Linked DNA regions of Homo sapiens: all the other regions are linked to region 1. Evidence: fine-mapped expression QTL. A gene starts in region 1. Each other region holds a variant in brackets. All regions are shown on one strand. Distances are between the middles of the regions. Region 1 holds the start of PXK (PX domain containing serine/threonine kinase like). Region 2 overlaps PXK (PX domain containing serine/threonine kinase like). Region 3 overlaps PXK (PX domain containing serine/threonine kinase like).

The links. PIP is the estimated chance that this variant, and not a neighbour inherited with it, causes the effect.
Region 2: its variant is fine-mapped to the expression of PXK in whole blood (TOPMed, PIP above 0.99). The same link has a PIP of 0.9 or more in blood mononuclear cells.
Region 3: its variant is fine-mapped to the expression of PXK in whole blood (TOPMed, PIP 0.98).

What each region holds. Positions count from the first base shown.
Region 1 is chr3:58,329,470-58,337,649 of GRCh38, forward strand. PXK (PX domain containing serine/threonine kinase like) reads left to right here and starts at 3,423. Exons shown (of 18, transcript NM_017771.5): 1 at 3,423-3,621. The coding sequence starts at 3,520. RefSeq lists silencers at 3,197-3,726, 3,973-4,267.
Region 2 is chr3:58,390,597-58,398,776 of GRCh38, forward strand. It overlaps PXK (PX domain containing serine/threonine kinase like), which reads left to right. Exons shown (of 18, transcript NM_017771.5): 5 at 1-63; 6 at 551-624; 7 at 1,177-1,251; 8 at 4,402-4,506; 9 at 5,062-5,163; 10 at 6,443-6,604; 11 at 7,009-7,126. Among named protein-coding and RNA genes, the nearest start is that of PDHB, 39 kb to the right of the region's middle. RefSeq lists an enhancer at 6,910-7,409. The variant A/T (reference allele first, on the strand shown) is at 4,142.
Region 3 is chr3:58,420,169-58,428,323 of GRCh38, forward strand. PXK (PX domain containing serine/threonine kinase like) reads left to right here. Exons shown (of 18, transcript NM_017771.5): 18 at 4,584-5,959. The coding sequence ends at 4,792. PDHB (pyruvate dehydrogenase E1 subunit beta) reads right to left here. Exons shown (of 10, transcript NM_000925.4): 10 at 7,462-8,011. The coding sequence ends at 7,866. Among named protein-coding and RNA genes, the nearest start is that of PDHB, 9.6 kb to the right of the region's middle. The variant T/C (reference allele first, on the strand shown) is at 3,168.

The sequences.
Region 1 (8,180 bases):
AAGCATTTGGACTGTGTGGACAGATTACAGAGAAAATGGAGCTAAACCCCAGAGAAGCCTTCTTCCAGTTACTGTCATGACTTTATCTTATGGAAGCAGTTGTCAGAGCACTGGACTCCAGTTGTCTAACATTTTTCCCCCAATCATACAAGTTAAATACAGAAAAGCATACAGAAGAAATCATCATGATCCTGCTTCTTAGAGGCCCACCGTTCATATTTATTTATTTATTTTTGAGACGGAGTCTCGCTCTGTCACTGAGGCTGGAGTGCAGTGATACGATATCGGCTCACTGCAACCTCCACCTCTTGGGTTTAAATGATTCTCCTGCTTCAACTTCCCGAGTAGCTGGGATTACAGGTGTGTGCCACCATGTTCTGGCTAATTTTTCTCTAAAAGTAGAGACAGGTTTTCACCATGTTGTCCAGGCTGGTCTCAGACTTCTGACCTCAAGTGATGTGCCCGCCTCGGCCTCTCAAAGTGCTGGGATTACAGGTGTGAGCCTCTGTACTCAGCCCATATTTTGATATATTTTCTTCTGGTGTTTGTCCTGTAGATATGTTGGGATTATACGGATGCTAAATTGCTTTTTTCATTTACTATTATATCAAGAGCATTTCTCAAGATCATAAAATATTTTTTAATCATGTGACTTTTTATTTATTTATTTGTTTGTTTGTTTGTTGAGACAGGGTTTTGCTCTGTTGCCCAGGCTGGAATGCGGTGATGCAATCTTGGCTCACTGCAGCCTCCACCTTCCGGGTTCAAGTGATCCTCCCACCTCAGCCTCCTGAGTGCCTGGGACTATAGGCATGCACCACTTACCCTGGCCTGATTTTTAACATTGCAAAAAATTCATGATTGTACCAAGATTTGTCCAAAACCCAACTGTTAGTCATTTATCCTTGCATGCTATTTTTTTTTTTTTACTGATCTCTGATTATTTTCTTAGGATACCCTCCTAGACGCAGAATTACTTGGTCATAGGATAAGAACATTTTCAAAGCCCTTAATACATATTTGTTTTAGCTCCTAGTACTAGGTCTATTACATAGTAGGTACTTAGCAAATAATTGTTGAATGAATGTACGAATGCCCTCCAGAAAGGTGGCGCCAATTTATACTCCCACCTGCAGTAAGAGAAAAGAGCCTTGTCTTGGTCAGTCCACATCACAATAGGAGTAATGATTATAGCTGGATTTTGGTTTCTGTGACTCTGGCAGAGAAATAATCTATTTGCCTTAAAACAAAGAAATGAAAGTAAAAAGTTGAATCCTCCCTAAATGACATATGGTTTTGCTTTAATAGACTGCTGCTTTTAAACACACTGGCACAAAAGTGGAATGGAGGGAGAGTTCTGATTATTTTAGGGCTGAATCATGAAGGTCCAGGATTCCTTCTTCACATCTCGCTCTATTAGATCTTGGCCCCTGGGACCAATCTCATGGCTACTTGACTCAACGGGGCTGCCCACCAATCCCAATAAGCTTGAGATCTGGAGAAGGGACCCTTTATGTATGATGTGGGCCTTTCCTGTGATGTCAAATTTTGGTGGTGGTGGTGGGATTACCAAGGAACTTTGTTCCCTTATCTGAAGTGTAGAAATTTAGTGGAGGCAAATTTAAGAGTTAGGAACCTTCCATTCTGTCAACTGTAGGGGAAGGAGGAAACTAATATTGACTTTGTTTTGTTTTTTTTTTGTTTTTCCGGAGACGGTCTTGCTCTGTTACCCAGGCTGGAGTGAAGTGGCATGATCATGGCTCACTGCGGCTTCAACCTCCTGTGCTCAAAAAACTCTCCCACCTCAGCCTCCTGAGTAGTTGGGACCACAGGTGTGAGCCATCATGCCCAGGTATTTTTAAAATTTTTTTGTAGAGACGGGGTCTCACCATATTGCCCAGGCTAAACTCCTGGACTCAAGCCATCCACTCTCCTCAGCCTCCCAAAGTGCTGGAATTACAAAGGTGAGCCATCATGCCTGACCACGGTTTGAGGTGTTTTTGTTTGTCTGTTTTTTTGTTTGTTTTTTGAGACAGAGTCTCACTCTGTCACCCAGGCTGGAGTGTAGTGGTATGATCTTGGCTCACTGCAACCTCCCCCTCCCGGGTTCAAGCAATTCTCCTGCCTCAGCCTCCAGAGTAGCTGGGTCTACAGGCACGTGCCACCATGCCCAGCTAATTTTTATATTTTTAGTAGAGGGGGTTTTGCCATGTTGGCCAGGCTGGTCTCAAATTCCTGACCTCAGGTGATCCACCCACCTTGGCTTCCCAAAGTGCTGGGATTACAAGCGTGAGCGATCATGCCTGACCACCGTTTGAGTTTTTACTATGTGCCAAGCCCCTTCCCAGTCTACTGCATTCCTTGTATTAACCTTTTCATACAAATAATATTATCTCCACTTTGCAAATTGGGGAGTTGGGACTCAGAGAGGTTGGGTAACTTATTGAAGATCACACAGCTGGTAAATGCCAGAGCCATGGAGATGATGGTCCTCCAATTCTAAATTTAACTCTTCACTATCCTGGAATGCTGCCCTAGGAGAGGGCAGTGTGGGTGAAATTTCTAGGTGTATATGGAGATGGGGGGGATGAGGTGGTGCCAGGATTATGGCTTTGGGTTCAGGCAGACTGTGGGCAGATTTAGGGCTGAGAAGTTGATCCCAAGGTTCTCTGGCTTGGCTCTTGGTTTGAAGTTCTTCTAGTCCATATGGTGGGATCAAAAACTCCCAAGTCTAAGGGATGTGGTTGAGCCCGCAGTGGGGGCCAAGAGTAGAGGCTAGGGGTCTCTGGACCATTTTATAGGGTCTCCAGTTCTTAGAGCTTGGGTCTGAGGGTTCTGGGGCCCAAGACCTCCAATTATGGGGTCCAGCTCTTAGGTGTTCAGGCCTGAGGAGCCACGTTCAAGAGTCCCTGTGAAGTTTCAATAGGAAGGGCTTGTTTCAGAAAGTCTCTGGGTTTGCAGGGCTCAGACTGGGGGTCCCATCCTAAAGGCCCTTTTTCTGAGTTTTAGGGTCCTTGGGCCTGGGGGATGAGAGAGATCCAGTTCTGAGGGTTTCAAGAGGTACGGTCCCCGAAAAGCCCAGTTCTGAGAGGCCTGGTTTGGAAATCTCGCCCTGAAGATTCCTGGATCCCAGGGCTCAGGACCAGGCGTCTCTGGATCTGAGGATCCTGGTAGTGATGGCTTAGGGTGGTGTTCCCTGGTCCGAAGCCCGGAGCTAAGGGCACCGGGTCTGCGGTGCGGCTGCGAGGAGCAGGGAAGCGCAGGCCCATGGCAGCCGCGAGGCGGAGGAGCGGGCCAGCGGGCGGCAGTGCTGGCGGCCCCCACACGTTCTGCGCTGGGTCGGCGCTAGGACTCCGGGGCGGCGGCCGTGGGAAGGGCGGCGCTAGGACCCCGCGGGCCCGGCGGCGCGTGGGGCGGCGCGTGTTGACAGCGGCGGCGGTGGAACCGGGCGGGCGGCGGGAGTCGGCGCCTCGGGTTCCTACCTCGCGTCCCTAGGCGGCGGCGGCCGGGCGTCCCGGGATGGCCTTCATGGAGAAGCCGCCAGCCGGCAAGGTGCTGCTGGACGACACGGTGCCGCTGACAGCAGCCATCGAGGCGAGCCAGAGCCTGCAGTCCCACACGGTGCGCGGCCCAGCGGGCGGGCGGGCGGCGTGGGGCGGCCCCGGGCCGCGAGGGGGCTGCGGGCTGCCTGGCGCGGGCCGGGCAGGGTCGTCGGACGGAGACCGGGCCACAGGGTGGGCGGCCCTGGCCGAGAAGGCTGTGGCGCGCCGCTGGGTCTGGGTCAGGGCCCCTGGGGCCCAGGCGAACGCTGAGGCCCGGAGGGGCCAAGGATGGGGACCGCAGCTCCCGGCGCCGCGGGGTGGAAGGAGCTCGGCGGCGACCAGGAAAGCGACTCCGAGTTGGGGGGCGGGGGCGGGGGCTGCGGGATTCCCGGGCTCACCTTGGACTAGGGGAGCAGGAACGAGACCGCTCAGGACCATCCACTTCTGCCCGCCGCCAGCCTTTTCCTTTTTGAGGCCGTGTAATTTCCTCCTTGCAGCTGAGGGTCTGGGTGATGGGGATGAGGGTGTGCCGGGCCAAATGAAGTGTGACTCCAGAGCCTACTTGTTGGGACAGCAGAGTGTAAGTGGCTGGGGTCTGCAGCCCCGTTTCCAGGTCAGCCGCTTGGCCCTGGTCCCGGGAAGTGGTGGGGGCGGCAGTCGGGGCGCTGTTAAGCAGGTGTATGAATGTGCTTCTCTAACTTGCTCTTTAGTGGGCAGTGGTAGCATTCATTTGAGTTTAAAATCCACTCGAGTAGCATAAAGGAGTAATAGGTCCTCATAGTAAACATTGGCAGGGTTCATTTCTGCTACATATACGGTCTTTTATGGGGCTTTAAAACCGTGGTTGTTTTCATTTGCTTGTACCTTTTTTTTTTTTTGAAAGGCCCACTATGCATTATAATTTCCAAGCAATAAATCTAGGAACCAGCAAGAAACCTGGAGCTATCAGCTAGTGGGACTTTTTTGGAAAAGTAATGAGTGAGGAGAGAGATTCCTTCAATTGTGATGTTTTGTCAGTCCACCGAATCAGATTCAGACTCAGAGGCTTGTTTGTTTACCATTGCAGTGTGTTTGGGGGGTCATCATCTGGAGGCTAAAGCTCACAATAGCCTTCTGTTTCTCTTTTCGTTCAAGCTCTTCTGATGACTTCAAAGAGACCTTTTATTCTGTTGTATTAAAGTGAGACTTTTTTGAACCTCAGTTTCCTCTTCTGACAGCCGTGCTTTGTAGGGCTTGAATTGTTCAAAGCATTCACTTCCAGTTAAGAAAATTATTATCTTTTTAAAAAGGGCTATTTATTTCACGCTGTGTGTCTTTAATCCTATTCTGTAGACATGTGAGAAGGCACATACAGGACAGAATTTGTTAAACTTGCTATCATTTGTGCCTAAAGGGAGTATGGCATAAGGGTTGAAATTTAGGATAGGGAGTCAAGAGTAATTCAGCTATTAAATTTGATTTTTGACTTGACTATTGGCAAGTAAGTCTTATAACCTTTCAGGGAATAGTGTCGAGTCCTTTAGGTTTATTTTGTATTGAAAATAAAGAGATAGATGTTTCTAAATACTCACAAATTACTTTCCCTAGGAAGCATTCATGATTTCTACAGCCCCAGCCCATGTGCCTACCCACACCTTAATCTTGATTAGTTTGTCCTGTAATTACTTCTTTACTTTTTGTCTCCACCAGGCTACAAGAGGAGGGGCACTTCTTCCTCACTTTTGAGTCTCATTCCCTGGTTTTTGATAGGATTTCAAATGTGTTTATCAAATGACTAAATAATCCAACTTCAACCTTACTATGCCTCTTTTTCTGTTTATGTAAAATGGTAATTGTAAACATTGAAAAAATAACTTAGAGATCAGTGCTTTAGCTAGGTGGCGAAAGATGTAATAGGATTCTGTTTTTATTGTAAGGGTGTGTGTGTGTGTGTGTGTGTGTGTGTGTCTGTGTGTGTGTGTGTGTGTGTGTGTGTAGAGACAGCGTCTCACCATGTTGTCCAGGCTGGTGTGTGTGTGTGTGTGTGTGTGTGTGTGTGTGTGTGTGTGGAGACAGCGTCTCACCATGTTGTCCAGGCTGGTCTGGAACGCCTGGGCTCAGGCCGTTCTCCTGCCTCAGCCCCACAAAGTGCTGGTATACAGATGTGAGCCACCACACCTGGCCCTGCAGATCTTTTCTTTAAAAAATAAAATAATTTAGGGTAGAAAATGGCAGTTCTTGTAGGGATGACTGACCACAAAAGACAGTGACTCACAGGAGACCCATAGAGGCAGATGTGGTAGAGTAAAAAACTGTAGCATTGTCTTGCGTAATTTTTTGACTGTTCTGTGTTCTTGTCATTTTAGCTGTAAAGTTTGACTGAGAAATGTTGCATCAGCCCTGAAGTTTATTGAGAAAATCTTACGCTGATGCAAACTTTTTGGACTGTTAGTGTCTTATGAGTAAGTCTTTTTTAAAACAGGAACTGTTGGAAATTATTTTGGAAAGAAGTAGTTGTTAAGAGGGGTATGTAGAAGAGAAAGGCACTGTTTTTTCTTGGGGAGATTGAAGTTGGCTTTCCAGCTTGGTAGCTGAAGGGAGATGGTGTTCCAGAAGTCAGAGCTCTACTCTCGCTTTGAAATGCTGAATCTCTAGGAAGTTACTCCTTGGCTGTAGACAGAAACATACGGAGTTAGAGACAGACTTGGGGTTGGAAGAGGCAAGACCTTAATACAGGTCTGAGCTGATACTTGCTAGTCATGTGATATAGGCTGGGCAAGTCACTTAAACCTTTTTGAAGTTTAGTTTTGTCATCTGTAAATGGGAGTAATAAATGCCTGCCCTGCCTGCCTCCCAAGGTTGTTAGGAAGATCAAATGAAATCATCTTGATGAAGTATTTGTAAAATGTATTCCTTCCTCCCTCCATCTCTTCACTCCCTGACAACATTTGTGCAAAGCGTTAAACACATTAGAGGGCGTTATTGCAAGCAAGCTCATTTCTGTCCATAGTTCCTTTCATTTATCAAGTTTGTTTAACCTTGGGAAACATATATATATATATATATATATATATATATATATTTTTTTTTTTTTTTTTTAATACCAATGGGGTTCTTGCTGTGTTGCCCAGGCTGGTCTTGAACTCCTGACCTCAAGTGATCCTCCCACCTCAGCCTCCCAAAGTGCTGGGATTATAGGTGTGAACCACTGCACCCAGCTGGGAAACCACCTATAACAGAAATGATTTAGGATTTGTGAACTTGGTAGGGAAAAATTCTGTGGTTTGGAAAACTGAGTCACCAGAAGGATGAAGGGAACACAAGGTCACCACCAGAAAGGCATATTTGGATGAGCAACTGGCAGAAAGGACATGTGTTGGTAGGTGATTCTGTGCTTTGCTGATGCTGATGCATCATTTTTATGGAGCAAAATGAATTTAGCATTAAGAGCTAGACCAGCCCTCTGCTGCAAGGAAATGAAGCTTCTATAAAATCAGAAAGGCTAGTATTTAGGGGGAGGATGCTTTCAGGTTAGGTTTGGAGGAAGAAGGAAGATTTTCCAGACAAAAGGAATTCTGGTGAAAAGCCACACAGGTGAGTTGTGAGAAAATTTAGGAGGACCAAGAGAGGACAAGGGAAAGGTAAGTTCTTGGCTATATAAAAGGGAAAACTTTTTAAAGTTAGTAGACTAAAAAAATGCTTACATAGCTGAAATAGAAACCAGAGGAAACAAAGTTTTGGAAAGCGCTGTTATCAAATGTGCACATCCAATTTTTGCTGGTGGGTAGGCTGTGTGTGATAGCTTTTCATCTCAGTTTTCTCCTTTTTTTGGGGGGTGGGGGACAGAGTCTCGCTCTGTCACCAGACTAGAGTGCAGGTCGCAATCTCAGCTCACTGCAACCTCCACCTCCCAGGTTCAAGCGATTCTTCTGCCTCAGCCTCCCAAGTAGCTGGGATTACAGGTATGCACCACCATGCCTGGCTAATTTTTGTATTTTTAGTAGAGATGGGGTTTCACCACGTTGACTAGGCTGGTCTTGAACACCTGACCTCAGGTGATCCACCTGCCTCGGGCTCCTAAGGCGCAGGGATTACAGGTTTGAGCCACCATGCCTGGCAGTTTTCTCCTTTTTAAATATTCTTCTGTGGAGTTCATCTGGATCAGGGACTGTTTATCTTCCATTTGGACATTTTGTTTTTGAGAAACAGATAATTATAGTGATAGTTAAGGCACAATAGAAAACATTTTTTAAAATCAGTGGAAAAGATAATATTACATGTTAAAATCTTTACTGAAAATGGATCTCTCCTTGAACTTTTGATATTTGGAAACTGCATTCCTGCATGGCTTATTTATTCAGCTATACTCATTCATTCAACAAAAATGTATTAAATGCCTACTATGTGCCAGGCACATGCTAGAGATAGAATGGTGAACCAGACAGCTCCTGCATCCATGGAGCTTTTGTTCTGTTGGATTCCAAGGTCTTTTTTTTTTCATTGTGAGACAGGTTCTTGCTCTGTCACCCAGGCTAGAGTACAGGACCACAGCTCACGGCAACCTCAGTCTCCTGGCTCAAGGAATACTCCTGCCTCAGCCTCCTGAGTAGCTGGGACTATAGGCATGCACCACCATACCTGGCTAATTCTTTGATTTTT
Region 2 (8,180 bases), 61 kb after region 1:
AGGTTTCCATGTTCTTCCGATCAGAACCAAAGTGGGAGGTGGTGGAACCTTTGAAAGACATAGGTGAGACATTGGCACGCTCATTCTGTTAAAAAGACAGATCACAGAACTGGATCCTTAGTCATGCTTTCTGATACGTATCCCAGGAACATGCTTAAATGCAGGTGACTTCTTTTTCTTTTTGCATATCAACTGCTTGAGGATACAGCTGGTAACTTTTAATACTTAATGAACCTTGGTTAAAGCCCCATCAAAGCATTTGGATGGTAATAACTTTCAGAAACACCATTCCTTCTTCATCTATCTTTTTCACTACATCTAAACTGAAGTGCTACTTTCCTGCCTTTTCCGTGAATAATTTCTTCATTTACTGTTTCTTTTTAAGTATAGCCTTTACTATGCCAACGTTATCAAATGGTTCTTTTACTTGTGCCTATGTAGCTGCGAATAATATTGCCAAACTTAATTTTTCTTGATTACCTAGTCAGTGAAACATATCAGTTGTTGCAAAAATTGTGCAGCTCTAAGCACATTTTTGCTTTTATGGCAGGTTGGAGAATAAGGAAGAAATATTTCTTGATGAAGATTAAAAATCAGCCAAAGGAACGGCTAGTGTTAAGCTGGGTAAGCTAGCTTTTTGCTTTGGTCTCCTTCAGTGACTTTAGATGGGTTAATGAAAGCAGATTTGACAAGAGAATTACAAAATTGTACTGTGCTCTTAAGTGATGATGTAAAGGCTTCCTTGGTCCATGTCAAAGAAAAGTCATTTTGAGTCATTTTCCTGTGTATTTGGTTATATAAATGCAATTATATTTGGTCAACTAGTAAACATTTGAAAAGAAACAAGAACAGCTTAAAATAACTCTCTGGAATCTCTTTAGGGTTTATAGTTTTGGAGTTTACTTCCCAAAAAAAAAAATACTTGGGCATTACTTTATCTCTTTGACTTTGAGAGTTTTAGTGATAGATTTGGTTAGTGGAATTAGATAAGATTACAGTTAAGTCTGGTATTTTTACACACTGCTTCTCCAGAAAGGTCTTGAGGCAGCCAGACTTAGTGTTGTTTTCGTCTTTGGTTTCCAGTCATATTTTGGATAATAAAATTAAAGGGAAAGACAAGGAATTTTTCTTTTGGTGACCAAAACAGTACCCTGATATTCCCTTCCATGTTTTCAGGCTGACCTTGGCCCAGACAAGTATTTGTCAGATAAAGATTTTCAGTGTCTAATCAAACTTCTGCCTTCTTGTTTGGTGAGTATACGTCTTTCTTTTATTCTCAGTGCTGATGATAGAGTCACAGTATTTTTTCTGGGTGAACATGGACAGAAAAGCTGGAAAACAGAATGGGGAGATACAGTGGATTTCAGGTCAGACTGAAATTGTGTAGGGCTAATCTCTTAGATCATAGGCTATTTGAAATGGCATTCATGACATCTGCACAACCCATGAAACATAGTAATTTAAATACAGACTTTGAATTTTAAACAAAGATGAGAGTAGGGAAGCAGCTACTTCTCCCAGCCTGTTGTTCTTGGTGAAGGTATTTATCTCAGTGGAACTGAAAGATACTCTTTCCAGCCTGAGAAAACAGAACTAATGAGGAATTTAGATAAGCTGGGTGAAGAAAAGGCAAAATAGCCATTTTTCTGTCTGAGTTACTACCTTCACAGGCTAACCAGATGACCTTTAGGAATACATGATATTATTTACACGACTACACAGCTCTAATCCAGGGCCTTCAGTGCAAAGAACCACGTTGATATATTTCAAAATATGTGCAGAATGTCTTCAGCAAAGACTAATCTGGCCAGGAAATTGAGTTAACATTGACATTCTTTATCTTGTCTGCATGAAGATGTAGTTCCCTGGAATGAATCACTAGCGAACTGAACACAATTACACTGACTTGTGCACTTGGTTTGGCAAGTTTATTTTTGGCCATATAGTGTCTTGTCAAGCTTGCAAACCAAGCTATTAATGAGGTGCAATGTGAGGCCAAAAAGACGCTTTAGTCTTAGAGCTTGATTGGTTGTGTGACATAGGCTGTCAGGACCTAGTTCTAAATTTCTTTTTTTTTTTTTTCAAGGTGGAGTCTCTCTTTGTCACCCAGGCTGGAATGCAGTGGTGCGATCTCGGCTCACTGCAACCTCCACCTCCTGGGTTCAGGCGATTCTCCTGCCTCAGCCTCCCAAGTAGCTGGGATTACAGGTGCATGCCACCACACCCAGCTAATTTTTGTATTTTTAGTAGAGATGGGGTTTCACCATGTTGGCCGGGCAGATCTTGAACTCCTGACCTCATGATCCGCCTGCCTCGACTTCCCAAAGTGCTGGGATGACAGGTGTGAGCCACCGCACCCGGCCCTAAATTTCTTTTAATAGAAGTGCTTCTTTAAAAAAAGAAGCACATAAAAATGGTGCATATTAATTGTAGCAAAGTCAGAAGGCAGATAAGCAAAAATAAGAAAATAAGCCGAGTGTGGTGGCTCATGCCTGTAATCCCAGCACTTTGGGAGGCTGAGGCGGATGGATCACAAGGTCAGGAGATCGAAACCATCCTGGCTAACATGGTGAAACCCTGTCTCTACTAAAAATAGAAAAAATTAGCTGGACGTGGTGGTGGGCACCTGTGGTCCCAGCTACTAGGAAGGCTGAGGCAGGAGAATGGCGTGAACCCGGGAGGCGGAGCTTGCAGTGAGCCGAGATCGTGCCACTGCACTCCAGCCTGGGCAACAGAGCAGACTCCGTCTCAAAAAAAAAGAAAGAAAAGAAAAGAAAACTCACCAGTAATCCCAGTCAAACAGAAGTATGAACCAAAATATTCAGTTGTTACTTTTTAAGAATTTTTATGATAAAAAAGTAAATTATATATGTAGTGCTTTAAAACCTGATTTTTTTTTCATTAATGGTGTACCATGAGCATCTTTAGTTGTTAGTAAATATAGCATCATTATTATGGGCTGTATAGAATTATCATTGGCTATACCTTAGTTTACTCAATCTTCTATTGACATTTAGATCACCTCCAGCTTTTTGCTCTTATTTTTTAAAAAAGAAAAAAGCCATAATGAACAATTTTTGCTAAACATTATACCCATACTTAATTTCTTAAGGTAAATACCTATAATTAATAACCAATGTGTAAGGAGATATTGTGACACTACATATTCTGTTCTTTATGAAGCCCACTAGCATTTTAACATTTAATGTGATTTTCTAACTCTATTATTCCTTCCGTATTTACTTATTAGTTGGCATTCTACTCTAAAGAGCTTCTCTTCTCCCTTTTAAAAAAATTTATATTAGTATGTACTCAAGGATTTTTATTCTACCCATTGTGTTTCTTTTTGGGGTGATGAAAATGTTCTATAATTAGATTGTATGATGGTTGTATAACTGAATATACTGAAAATCATTGACTTGTACAGTTTAAATGTGTGAATAGTAATGGCATGTGAATTATATCTCAACAAAGCTGTTAAAAAGTCAGCAGCAACCATTTTGATGTGATGATCAGGAGAACTTCATGATCAATTACTCTGTTTTCCTGGGTACACCTTTCCACCCCCCAACCTGCTGCATGCCAGCCTCCAAAATCCCTGCATAGCTCAGCTCCCATGGGTTTAAATTTTCATGATACTCCTTTGAGCTAGTGAACATTGTAATACCTGTCTGGACCCAGTTTGTTTCACGTAACCAGAATTCCAGGGAAAAACAGCACTTTCCTTTCACTCATTAAATAATTTGTCTTTTCTCCACCCCAGTTGCTTAATGTCAGTTTCTCCATCTGAGGAGGACACTGTGAATCTTTATGTTGCAGAATTCTATAGAAGGGTAGGAAGATTCATGCCAGCTACTGTGGAAAGGGCTGAGATTCCAGAAGATGCTACTTTTGCCTGTTTTCTGGCTAGTATGCTTCTTGGCTTGGCACCCAAACAGCAGTGTGGAATGTTAGGCAAAGCTGTGAGCAAAGACACATTGATCCTGGTCTCCATTTGGCTGTTCTGAGATTTGGCTGTATTCTTTACTGACTTACAGAGACAGGATATTAACACTATTATCCTCAAAACTCAGACATTTTATCTCTTCCACCACACTTTTGCCTGAGCTATGAGAGTGCACACACCAAAGAGGACCCCTTC[A/T]CTTGTGGAGTTTACCACATCCATTATCTGTCTCCTGTTTTCCTTTGTTCCTACAGTTTATGTCCCTTCCTCCATCTGAAGAAGGAGGAACTAGCTGGTAACTGAATAACTTGAAAATGCCATGTGTTCAGGGAATATCACTACATTCGTATGCAATTAAACCACCACAGTGCTACTTGACTCTGCATAACCAGATCCTGTATTTAAAAGGACCTAGATCCTGACGCAAATCAATGTGAATTTCTTTTTTGTTTTGACAGCACCCTTACATCTATCGGGTTACCTTTGCCACAGCTAATGAATCCTCAGCGTTGCTAATTAGGATGTTTAACGAAAAGGGAACATTGAAGGATCTGATCTACAAGGTACCTGTGCAAGTTCATGGTCATAAGGAATTCTCAAGTTCCTTTAGAACCTGTTATTGATACTTAGTCTCTAAGACTCCAGAGGCTAGGCCCTGAGGATTTGATGTTAGTTTTGATTTTATTTGGAATTTATTTTTATTCATGCAATAAAAACTCTACTTAGTTTGGTTAAAGAGCATTCCTTTTCCCATGTGAGGAAAGGTTGAACATTTAATAATTATGTCCATTACATGGCAAGCTGTTCTCTTAGGTCAGTTTTTAAGTTTGTGTTTTGCGCTTAACAAAGCAGTTCTGAAGAATTCGAACAATATGCAAGACTTTGGGGTCTGCTAAGGGCAAGACCAGGCACATCTTCACTGGGCTAGAGAAGGGATGGAACCTGGGTCAGCCTCTTTCTATCAACAATGCAGACTGTCGTATTTTAAAAACTCACATCTTGCAGCTGGCCATCTCTGGCGCCCCTAGCCTCTGTAGAATCCTGCCTGGTCAGGGAGTCTGTGTGCAGATATTGGCCCCTCTGCTGCTTTCTTACGTGTTCTTTGTTCTTTTCCAAAGGCAAAACCAAAAGACCCATTTCTAAAGAAGTACTGCAACCCTAAGAAGATTCAGGGCCTGGAACTCCAGCAAATAAAAACATATGGACGGCAAATATTAGAGGTAAGAGGTACTTTTGTTTAAGTTGCATTCAGATTTCATCCAAAATTGCATTATTCACCTGGAAAAGTTCTTAAGTAATATCCAAAATTACTTAAGTTGTCTGATTACTTATAAACTGATTGCATTGTCATATTTTGCCTCAAAAAGTAAATATTTGAGACTAAGGCAACAGTCACTTATGTCTACAAAATTCTTAAAGCTTTAGCTATTGCAATTTAGTGTCTGAGTTTTAAGAACTTTACTGTGTGGATACCAACTTTTATATTATCTTTGGTTGCTCTTTATCCCCATGCCAAGGTTTTTGATTTTGTTATGTCATATGCATAGCCATATGGCTCCCTTACAGAAGTATAACCAACAGTGAGAAGGCTTTCCGACATCACCCTCTAGATCAGGATTCTCCAAGCTTCTGGGATTATGCAACCTTATCAGTAATAACCAATTTAATATCCCAATGTTATGTCTATTTAACTATAAATTATATGCGTGTACTATGCACATACATATATGTGTATGTGTGTATATATATTATATTTGTTTGGATGGAGACAGCATACTAGTAATATATTTTGTATATTATAAGTTAAAAAAATAACATTTTTAAAAAACAACAACTATGAAGAGAAGTTGTAATATTTTCTTCTAGTCCTTAGTGAATTGCTCTGGGCACCCCACTTGCCTATCACTGCTCTAGTTCACCAGGACATTGCAGGGCTATATCTAAGCATCTCTCTTACTGGGTAAGCCACTGATTATTTATATGGCAGCGGAAATATTTACTGCTTTTTCTGGGATCCTGTTGTGTGTTCCTATTAATAAACAGCTAAATATATTTGGAGGAGAGACTGAACTAGAGATGTTTTCTAGTTCAACCCCTTTTTCTGAATTACTGGCAGAAGCACTGATAAGATAGCTTCACTCATCTATGCAGGAGGATCAAGACTTTGCCCTGAAGAGAGCTGGCCTATTGGAATCAGAAAGTGCTTAAAGCAGAGCCTTTTGGCATCAGAGTTATTAATTCCAAGCATATGCAGGCTGCTTCTCTATTCTTTTGAGGAAAGAAAGAACTGATGTTGCATCTCACAGCCTCAAAACTGGAAAGCATTCAGCTTCACTTCCTTTTCCAAACAAATGGGTAGAGGTGGCATTTTTCTTCAGGAATCTTCTCAGTGACCTGTTTGGTTTTGTTTCAAAATATATTGACTAAAAAACAAAGTTTAACTTGTCTTATATCTGAATGAGTTTGGGGAAAATGTAACTTTCCCATATGTTTTGATAGGTACTGAAGTTTCTTCATGACAAGGGATTCCCTTATGGGCATCTTCACGCCTCCAATGTGATGCTCGATGGGGACACTTGCCGGCTGCTGGACCTTGAGAATTCCTTATTGGGCCTGCCTTCCTTCTACCGATCTTATTTTTCACAATTCAGGAAAATCAATGTAAGTTGCTAAAGTAATGAAATAGCAGGTTCATTTTTAGGTGTCAGTTATCCCCATGATCTGCCCATGTAGGAAATATGCACCAAGTAGTGAAAGGTATAGTTGGGACAGGCCTTGCCCGTCAGCCCTTGCAGCGTTGCTGTATCTCTGGGAGGCTGAGTTGAAATGGCGGGTGGGGTAAGGAGGGAGGTGGACTCACTGATTGGAAAACTGTGGAGGGTCGGACCAAGACCTTTGGGATACCTCATGAGGTTTTACAGAAGGCTTTGGAGTTGCATTTACGTTACCAATTAGGAACGGGGCTATCCCTGGGCTTTGTTTCTCAGAGAAGCCTTGGGGCAGGAGCGCGAGGGTCCACAAAGCCAAAGTGAAGGGTGAACACGCTGCTACTCTTTCTTCCACAGACATTGGAAAGTGTGGATGTCCACTGCTTTGGCCACTTACTGTATGAAATGACTTATGGACGACCGCCAGACTCGGTGCCTGTGGACTCCTTCCCTCCTGCCCCGTCCATGGCTGTGGGTCAGTATGGGGTTGGGAAGGGTCTTCTGGGCCCTAGTAGTGTGCAGAGCCACTCATCCCCTTTCCAGAGTCCAGGAAAGACCCAGAGGAAGTTGCTGTCCTCCACAGCCAGAAATTCTTACAAAATTTAAAAGTAGACCAAATTTGAGTAGTTTACTTAAATACACTTCTGTGAAAATTCAGGTGGCTTGTCCATTTGCCAGGCTATCTGAAATTTCTGGGAACTTTTTGCAAAATGCTTTAGAGCTTTGGAAGCAGGAGGATGTAAAGAGAAGTATGGCCTGCATGAGTGTGATGCAGAAGCTAGAGCCAGGCAACTTGAAGCCAGTCTTGAGGACCCAGGCAGGTGTCAGACGTCAGATCAAGACTGAAGTGAGACTTGTAAGAAACAAGAGAGGCCAGGCATGGTGGCTCACACCTGTAATCCCAGCACTTTGGAAGGCCGAGGTGGGTGGATCACATGAGGTCAGGAGTTTGAGACCAGCCTGGCCAACATAATGAAACCCCATCTGTACTAAAATTACAAAAATTAGCTGGGCGTGGAGGTGCATGCCTGTAATCCCAGCTTTTTGGGAGGCTGAGGCACGAGAATTGCTTGAACCCGCCTCTTGGGAGGTGGAGGTTGCAGTGAGCCGAGATTGCGCCACTGCACTCCAGCCTGGGCGACACAGTAAGACTCTGCCTCAAACGAAAACAAAACAAAACAAGAATGCCATAGGCCAGAAGCCTAGTAGATAAGAGCCTAGCAGGCCCAGACCTAGGGCAGGCAGGCAGGAATGCAGACACCAAGACAAATTGGATCCAGGAGCTCTTACAGCATTACCTGCGGGGGCTGAGGGGAGCTGGAGGACAAGTGAGAGCACCTTTAGGAAGGAGGGATGCAGGAACTGGTACAGACTCATCCAGGACCCTTTCATCCCCTCCACAGCCAGGCTGGCACCCACAGCTGGAGCAGAGAGAGGGGAGGGCAGGGTGGCTCTTGGACCCCTGTGCCTTGGAGATACTCAAGTCCACCCTTCACCAAGCGTTATTGTGTCAAAAGAGGCAATTCAAG
Region 3 (8,155 bases), 91 kb after region 1:
CATTCTGCTCTTCAGAGGTAAAACCTTCATGGCTTTTCTGAAGTGAGCGTCATGCTTGTAAATAAATAAAAATAGTATCTAACTGGCTCAGAGGACAAAGAACATGAAGAAAGTGACTCATTAGGTGGCTCAAAAAGCGACTCATTGGTTATTCTATAAATACGTTTGCCATGTTTTAAAAGGCTCACAATCGTGTTTACAAACCAGTGCTGTGGTTAATTTGAGTATATCCTAGTTTCGAAGTGAGAATAATCAGCTTGTGATTCAGACTAATATTTTACTGTCTGTTACTATTTGATTAAATGACACTAAAATCTGAATAATGACTTGTGTCCCCCCTTTCTCTCTCTCTCTTTGCTGTTTTCAGTAGAGCATGCACCATTTTGAACGTGAATTTTCGGTAAAGTAAACTATGCTGATTTCTCAGACTTTAAAGATGCTCTGTTTCTGTGTGTGAAATAGGACCCAAAGTGTCTCGATTGCTGAAGTGATGAACAAGTGGGAAAGCAGATTTGAGACTATTTCCTTATCTGAATATTTAAATGAAATACAGCATCTTTAAAAAGCACCCAGTGACTTCATCTATATTCATTTCATTTTCATCATGACCTTCAAAATCTTCATTTTCACTCTGATTTCAGTTTTAAAATACAGCTCTAAAACCTGCAAATCAACTGCATGGCATTTTGGTATATTTTAATTTTGGAAACCATAACTCTCAAAGTCCCGTTGCTGCAAAAATGTTGATTCCTAGTTACTCTGATGAAGAGGAAAGAGTGTTAGGCACTTGAGCTCTTAGTTACAGGGAGACAACTTACTGGCTTTTATAACTGACGGTAGGGAAAAACAGTTCTTTTGTAAGCATCCTTTATAATTCTCGAGCTGTGACAGGAGTACAGCCTCCTCACCTGCCTGAAGCCAAAGGAGAAGGTGGTTCTCCCGAGAGCTGGGGGCTTGCCTGCTTCGGTTCTCTCCTGAGGGTGGCTGGTAAGTCTGGTGTTACCCTAGTGTGGTCTCATGGCCACTTGGCCTCCCTTCCTGTATGTGACCACAAAGGAGCTCAGAATTAGAGAGACTGTAGATTACCCACTGCTGGCTGCTAACATGGGCCTAAGAGTCGGTGGGGAAGGGAGCCAGGCGCAGTGGCTCACATCTATAATCTCAGCACTTTGGGAGGCTGAGGCGGGCGGATCACAAGGATCAGGAGTTCAAGACCAACCTGGCCAACATGGTGAAACCCCATCTGTACTAAAAATACAAAAATTAGGTGGGCATGGTACCACGCGCCTGTAATCCCAGCTACTCGGGAGGCTGAGGCAGAGAATCACTTGAACCCGGGAGGCGGAGCTTGCAGTGAGCCGAGATCGCGCCACTGCACTCCAGCCTGGGCAACAGAGCGAGACTCCATCTCAGAAAAAAAGGAACTGGAGGGAGGGACCCTCAGACATCCTGTCCACAAGGCTGTCAAGGGGGTTTCTGGCCTGGCATTCCTCCCTAGATCTGACCTACGCTCTCCCTGCAGCATTCTCTGCCCTCTGACAGGGCCTCTGCTGGACTGCCAGGTTCCCGTGTGGTTTGGTGGAGAAGATTTTGGGGTGGGTAGAGTAAGTAGTTGGCTCTCAGGGATTTTGTCTAAGAGAAAGTGAGATGGGAGAAATCGGGACTGACCTGGTCGTAACTGAAGGTAAGCTGTTTGCAGCATCCCCCTTCCTGGGTGCAAATTCAGGTATCATAAGTCTAACATGGAATCGGTCTGCTCTCATATGTGGCCTGGAGATAAGGGTATTGGAGGTCTCTTGGCAGGAAGGCCTCATTCACATCTGAGGGGTGGAGAGCGCGCAGGCAGCAGGCAGTTGTTCCCAGGTTTGTCACAGGCCAAATGGTAACTTTCATTTGGCCCTTGTTGCCCCTGCCCCCTCTTCCTCCATTGTTAGCCATGTGTTGTAGCTGAAGCCCCAACGGACCTTTCAGGAAGCTTGTGGACCATGGAAAGGGCCAAAAGGAAAAGCCAAAAACAATCAATGGGGCAGACTGAGTGAGACCGAGTCCCAGGTCTGTGTTCCTGCCTCCTCCAGTTTCCACCTTCTGACCCCTAGACCTCCTCTCCCCTCCAGAGTGTTCCAAACTGGCAAGCTGGGTCTGGCCTTCCTTGCCCTGGTTGTACATAAGAGCCACCATGGTTGTTGTAGGCCCAGTGAGGAAAAGTGGACTTGCTGGGACATCAAGCCCCACCGGACTGCTCCAGCCTGCTGAGGCCACATCAGGGAGATCCTGCTGCCTGTCCTTTCGTTCCATCTGCTTTACTGGAGCCCTGGAGCCCTTTGGACAGTGTATTTATTGACACCACCTACATTTTCAAAGAGACTCATTTAAAGTGACAGTGGAAAATCCATGTCCATTTACTTGGACAGTGGAAAATCCATGTACTGAACCCCACCCTCAACTCCCAAACTCTGCGGTGGTGCATTTGCACTTCTAATTTTGAGGGCCTGGTAATGACGCCAAAACCAAGGGTTGGTTCTCTGTGAGGCCAAGCAGTTTTGTTCTGTGCCAAGATGGCAGCCCCTACCCCTCAGCCCAGCCCTGAGGCCCGTCTCCAGCCCCCCAAAATCCTTGCCTGGAGGGCTAGTCAGTCTCTAGATGGCCAGTGCTGAGCCTTTAGTAGAACTCCCAAGTACCGCCGCAGCCGAGAGCCTGTCCTTAACTGCACAGTGATTCTTCTGCCGGGGGTCAAAGCACAAACCTGGGAGGCAGAAACCCTGGAGCTCCTTCTGTTACACTACGTGGCCCTGAATATCAAGTCCAGATTCCACTGCCCTTTTCTGGCTATTGGGTGGGAGGGTGCTGGGGAAGGGCACTGGCACCTACTTACCCCCAAGTGGGCAGAGCTCACTCCTTCGGGCCCACTTGGTGTTGCAGTCAAGAGACTCAGTTCCAAAAACCTTCAGCAGAGGTCTCCCCTCCTCCTGGTATTTCACTGGTTGCTCTCCAGAAGTCCTCTTCAGAGGAATGCTCATCACACATGCTTATTCTCCGTTTTCCCACTTCAACAGTTACTTCAGGTTTAAAGTCCTTTTTATCTCTGTAACCTGGTGACATAAAGCCAGGAACATTTTCCCACAATCCACCTTAGCATAAAACATAACAATTTCATTCATCAGTTGTTA[T/C]TGTGTAGAACCAATGAACATGTTGGTCATTTGTCTGTATTTAGTCTTTATTTGTATTGCTATCTTTGAGCATTCCAAGATTGCAGAGCATGAGCGTGTGTATTTGTGTGATTCTTTAATTTCAGCTGCCTTAGGTTTGAGTAAAAGATGTAAAGAAAGGTAAGTGATTTTCTATTGTAAGACTTTAACCCATACCTGTCACACTTGGTGAAAAGGATGTACTTACCTGAGTATTGTGTTGGTGATTCTGAGCCAGTCGTCCATACAAACTTAAGTAGGGTAGCTTTACCTGTTACTTATCACAACTCAGTAGCAGTGTAGGGGAAACCACCTGGCAGAATGTCTCCCTGGAGTAGCCCTGGGAGGGACAGAGACAGCATCTGACAGAGTCTCAGAGAGCTGCAAGGTCACAGGAGACGAGGCAACTAACTGTGGCACAGGAACATTCTTTAAGGCAAGGCTTTTTCTGAACTCGGGTGTTTATTCTGTCCTGAGAGAACCATTCATTGATTCTAAAATATAAAATTCGAGTTGCAAATGTCCATGTGCCTGGAAGCTGAGGGAAGTTTTAGACACCTGCCCAGTTTCCCTCTCCTTGCCCACTGCGGTACAGCACGACATTCTAGTTTCTCCTGATGCTTCGTCAAAGACATTTAGTGCAGTTATGTCCTGTTCCTTGGTTGGGCCACAATGGAGAGAACAGTACTTGAGAAGGATTTCTCTGTAAGAATACCATGGCAGAGAGACCCCTCTGCCCCCTGCTTTGCATTGCTAACAGTTATTAGCATTTTATATTTCTTTAATGCAACCTAATAGGAAATTATTATTCGAGACAGACTCCTCTGGGAAATGCATAACCCAGGAGGCACTGATTCCTTGCTGAGAATCCTGAGTGGTCTGTCATTTTACATAAGATCACATCCTTCAAACATTGTGTATGTTGGAGCAGCGAAAGAACTGTTCACCCCTTATGAATAACTGACATTCAGGAAGCCCAACTCCATCATGCAGATGTCTATCTTTAATTGCTAGCTCAGAAGCAGACAGAGCTTCCTGGGACCTGGCTAAAGTAACTGATAGATGGAACTCTTCTTTGGGGACTATTACTTTGCAAATGGGGTCAGAGCCTCATCTATGCAGAGAATGTCACCATATGTGGTTTCATGTAATCTGTAATTATTTGTTCCAACAGCCTTTAACATGACTATTGTTTGAGAAACATGGCAACTTTTAATTCCCCTTTGATGCTTCTAGCTTTCTTTAGTATTTTAAGAACTCATACAGTACTAGGTATGTTGGTCCCTCTGAGAAAAACATGTGGACTCTCACCAGTCCGTTGTGCTCAGGACTGAGCAGCAGCGTGTGTGCAGGGCAGCTGTGGAGGTGAATACTGATTGTCCCCCTTTTCCTCCACAGGGATATCTGCATTACCTCCACCTCCTCCACCTCCACCACCACCAGCAGCTCCCTTGCCTCCTGCGAGCACCGAGGCACCTGCCCAGCTCTCGTCTCAGGCTGTGAATGGCATGAGCCGAGGGGCCTTGCTCAGCTCCATCCAGAATTTCCAAAAAGGAACTTTGAGGAAAGCCAAAACCTGTGATCACAGTGCTCCGAAGATCGGCTGAAGCTTCCTGTTTACACTTGGAGGGAAAAGTTCTTTTTTATTCCTACTCACCCCTACCCCCCAAACTACCCTCTTCCTGGGAAAGTAATTGCTGAGCCAGTACAGCCACAAACAGTACTATTTTGCAGATGCTCATGTAAGCAGCTTTTCGAGAGAAATAATTCTTTAAGCAGAATAAAGTTAGGCTGGCATTGCTCCCTTAAGATCTTGCTCCTTTATTAACCCTGTAAAGGAGTCTTGTTTATCCTCTAATGGCCAGGCTTTTGGGACAGCAGCATATTGAAATATTTTCACCAACTAAAGGAAATAGACAGAAAAACAATGACAATATTCAATCACAGCAGTAAATGGCCTTTGTGTTGCAATCCCTTCTACCCCATCAGACAGCTCCTAGAAACATTCCTCTTACAGTTCATTTCTCTAAAGCATTTTCTGATTCTTAGATAACTCCAATTTTTGCTACCTTTATCTTAGACATTAACACTATAGCCCAAAGCATAGTTACTTTGCTAAATCAGAAAGCAACTGAGTTCTTTGTTTTCTCCTCAAATAGAATGGGGAACGTTCACAACATTCTCTTAAGTTCTAACAGGAATACCATTGTGGTTATAGAACTCAGGGCTGCTAAAGCAACTACTCTAGACCCATAGTTCTTTTTAGTTAGATGTATTGAAACAGACAAAAATATTAACATCAGAAAAAGCTCTTGCCAATTAGAGGATCTTCTTAATCCTCAGCAATTAAGTTTGGGGTTTGAGGGGGGCAGGTCATTGTTACAACAGAAGTAAATTTGGCATCTATAGAAATCAATTATGATTTTTGAAAGATTTATCTAAATATATCAATATAGCATCTCTTTAATGTTAGTCATTTATTAGAAAGATCCTTTATCCTGATTTGCTTAAACCTTTCAATAAATTGCACTTTAAAGGATTATAAATAATCCATTTAAAAATTCAAGTACACACATCAGTGTTGGTTACTATGCAGAGAATGTCATTGTGTATAGTTTCATGTAATCTGTTATGTCAGCTGTATTTTTTATTAAAATCATGTCAAGAAAACGTGTTGTCTGTAGCTTGACAAGATATTTCAAATGAGAACTTTTTGTAGCGTCTGTTGTTAGCAAAGAATAGATTCACACAGTCTAAGGTTTCCTTCCTACCTATCCTGTCTCTTATTCTTTTGTGTCTCACTTTTCCTCTAAGAACTAAAAATCCTGCCTTGCTACTTAAATTAGGTACCACCTATATGCTTCTCTAACTAATTTAAACCCATCTTTTCCATCTCAGCTTCTGGAGGGCAGTATTTGACAGAATATCTGATCTTTGGAAATGGGAAAAACAACTGATATAAACTTTGCCATAATTTTAAAGAGAATGCTATTAGAATTAGGCATTTGGAGAGTCTGTGGAGAAGTTCCTGTTTCAAGTGTGATGCAACCTAGGTGATTACCTGATGGAGGCTTGTGAGGCCTGAGTCCTTCTGAAGTCAGTTTTGCTGACTATTCTGGATAGTTCAGATATATGAATACAAACAGGTAATGGTCTTGTACAGTATCAGCTTATTTTCCACATGGAACTAATTTCTTTTGTTGTTATTTTTAAGACAGGGTTTCGCTCTTTCACTCAGGCTGGAGTGCAGTGACCCAATCACAGCTCACTGCAGCCTTGACCTCCCAGGGCTCAAGCAATCCTCCTATAGGCACACCACCAGATACCTGGGTTTTTTGTTTTGTTTTTTTTGTTTTGTTTTTGTAGGCAGGGTTTTTGCAACGTTGCCCCAGGCTGGTCTCAAACTCCTGGGCTCAAGCAATCCCTGCCTCAGCCTCCCAAAGTGCTGGGATTATAGGCATGAGCTACTGTGGCCTGGCAGCACTAATTTCTTAATAAATAGAATTTCAAGTTTTCTACCCACATTGACTTTTTTTTTTTCTATCTATCTTTTCTTTGTAGAGATGGGGTTTTGCCATGTTCCCCAGGCTGGTCCTGAACTCCTACACTCAAGGGATCCACCCACCTCGGCCTCCCAAAGTGCTAGGATTACATGTCTGAGCCACCACACCCAGCCAATTCTTTTTTTTGAGACGGAGTCTTGCTCTGTTGTCCAGGCTGGAGTACAGTGGCGCCATCTCTGCTCACTGCAACCTCCGCCTCCTGGGTTCAAGCAATTATCCTGCCTCAGCCTCCCGAGCAGCTGGGTCTACAGGCGCATGCCACCATGCCCGGCTTTAGTAGACAGGGTTTCACCATGTTAGCCAGGATGGTCTTGATCTCCTGACATCATGTTCTGCCCGCCTTGGCCTCCCAAAGTACTGGGATTACAGGCATGAGCCACCACGCCCAGCCCAGCCAATTCTTTCAATATAAAAATACAATAGTCATGGCCAGGTGTGGTGGCTCATGCCTGTAATCCCAGCAGTTTGGGAGGGCCAAGGCAGGTGGATCACCTGAGGTCAGGTGTTCAAGACCAGCCTGGCCAACATGGTGAAACCCCACCTCTACTAAAAACACCAAAATTAGCCGGATGTGGTGGCTAATTTCCTACTGAGGCTGAGGCAGGAGAATCACTTGAACCTGGGAGGTGGAGGCTGCAGTGAGCCAAGATTGTGCCATCACACTCCAGCTTGGGGAACAGAGCCAAACATTGTCTCAAAAAAAAAAAAATTAGTCATGTTAGAAATTCCTTTATTCCTTATCAAAACAAACTAACAGTAAATGTATATTATATGCTTTAATTTTATACATATAAGTTATCTTGTTTGGATACATCTTTCATGAGGACTCTGCCACATCCATACTTTGTCCTTGTGGTGAGAGAGGATAAAATGTTATATAATTTGTTATTCAAAGAACATGGCAACCGTAACAGACAAAAGGAAGCATGGCATCTAGGGGAGGAGAGTGGAGAGTTTTCCATACACAAACACATTTAAACTTCCCTGTACAAAAATACCTGCTGTTGCTTTAGAAATCGTTTTCCGTTATGAATAGTCAGGTCTTGCAGTACAAATCCAGGTGCAGTGCCAGCAAGTATTTCAAATAAATTTCAACGACTTGATATTCAAGTCCAAACTAAATATTTAATGTTTTCTTTATTGCAAATATGATGTCTTTGACCTGAGGTATAGAGTTGTCCTCTAGAATCTTTGCATAAGGCATAGGGACATCAGCACCAGTGACACGAACAGCAGGAGCATCCAGGAAATTGAACGCAGGACCTAGGAGAAGGAAGGCTCAACTGAGAGAGTGCAAATGCCAGCTGGGCACTACCACCTTGGCACAGAGGTGTGGCTGACCAGGAAGAGAAAATGTAAGGAATGCTAATTATGGGGAACCGCTTTCTGGATTTGCTTTTAAAAATA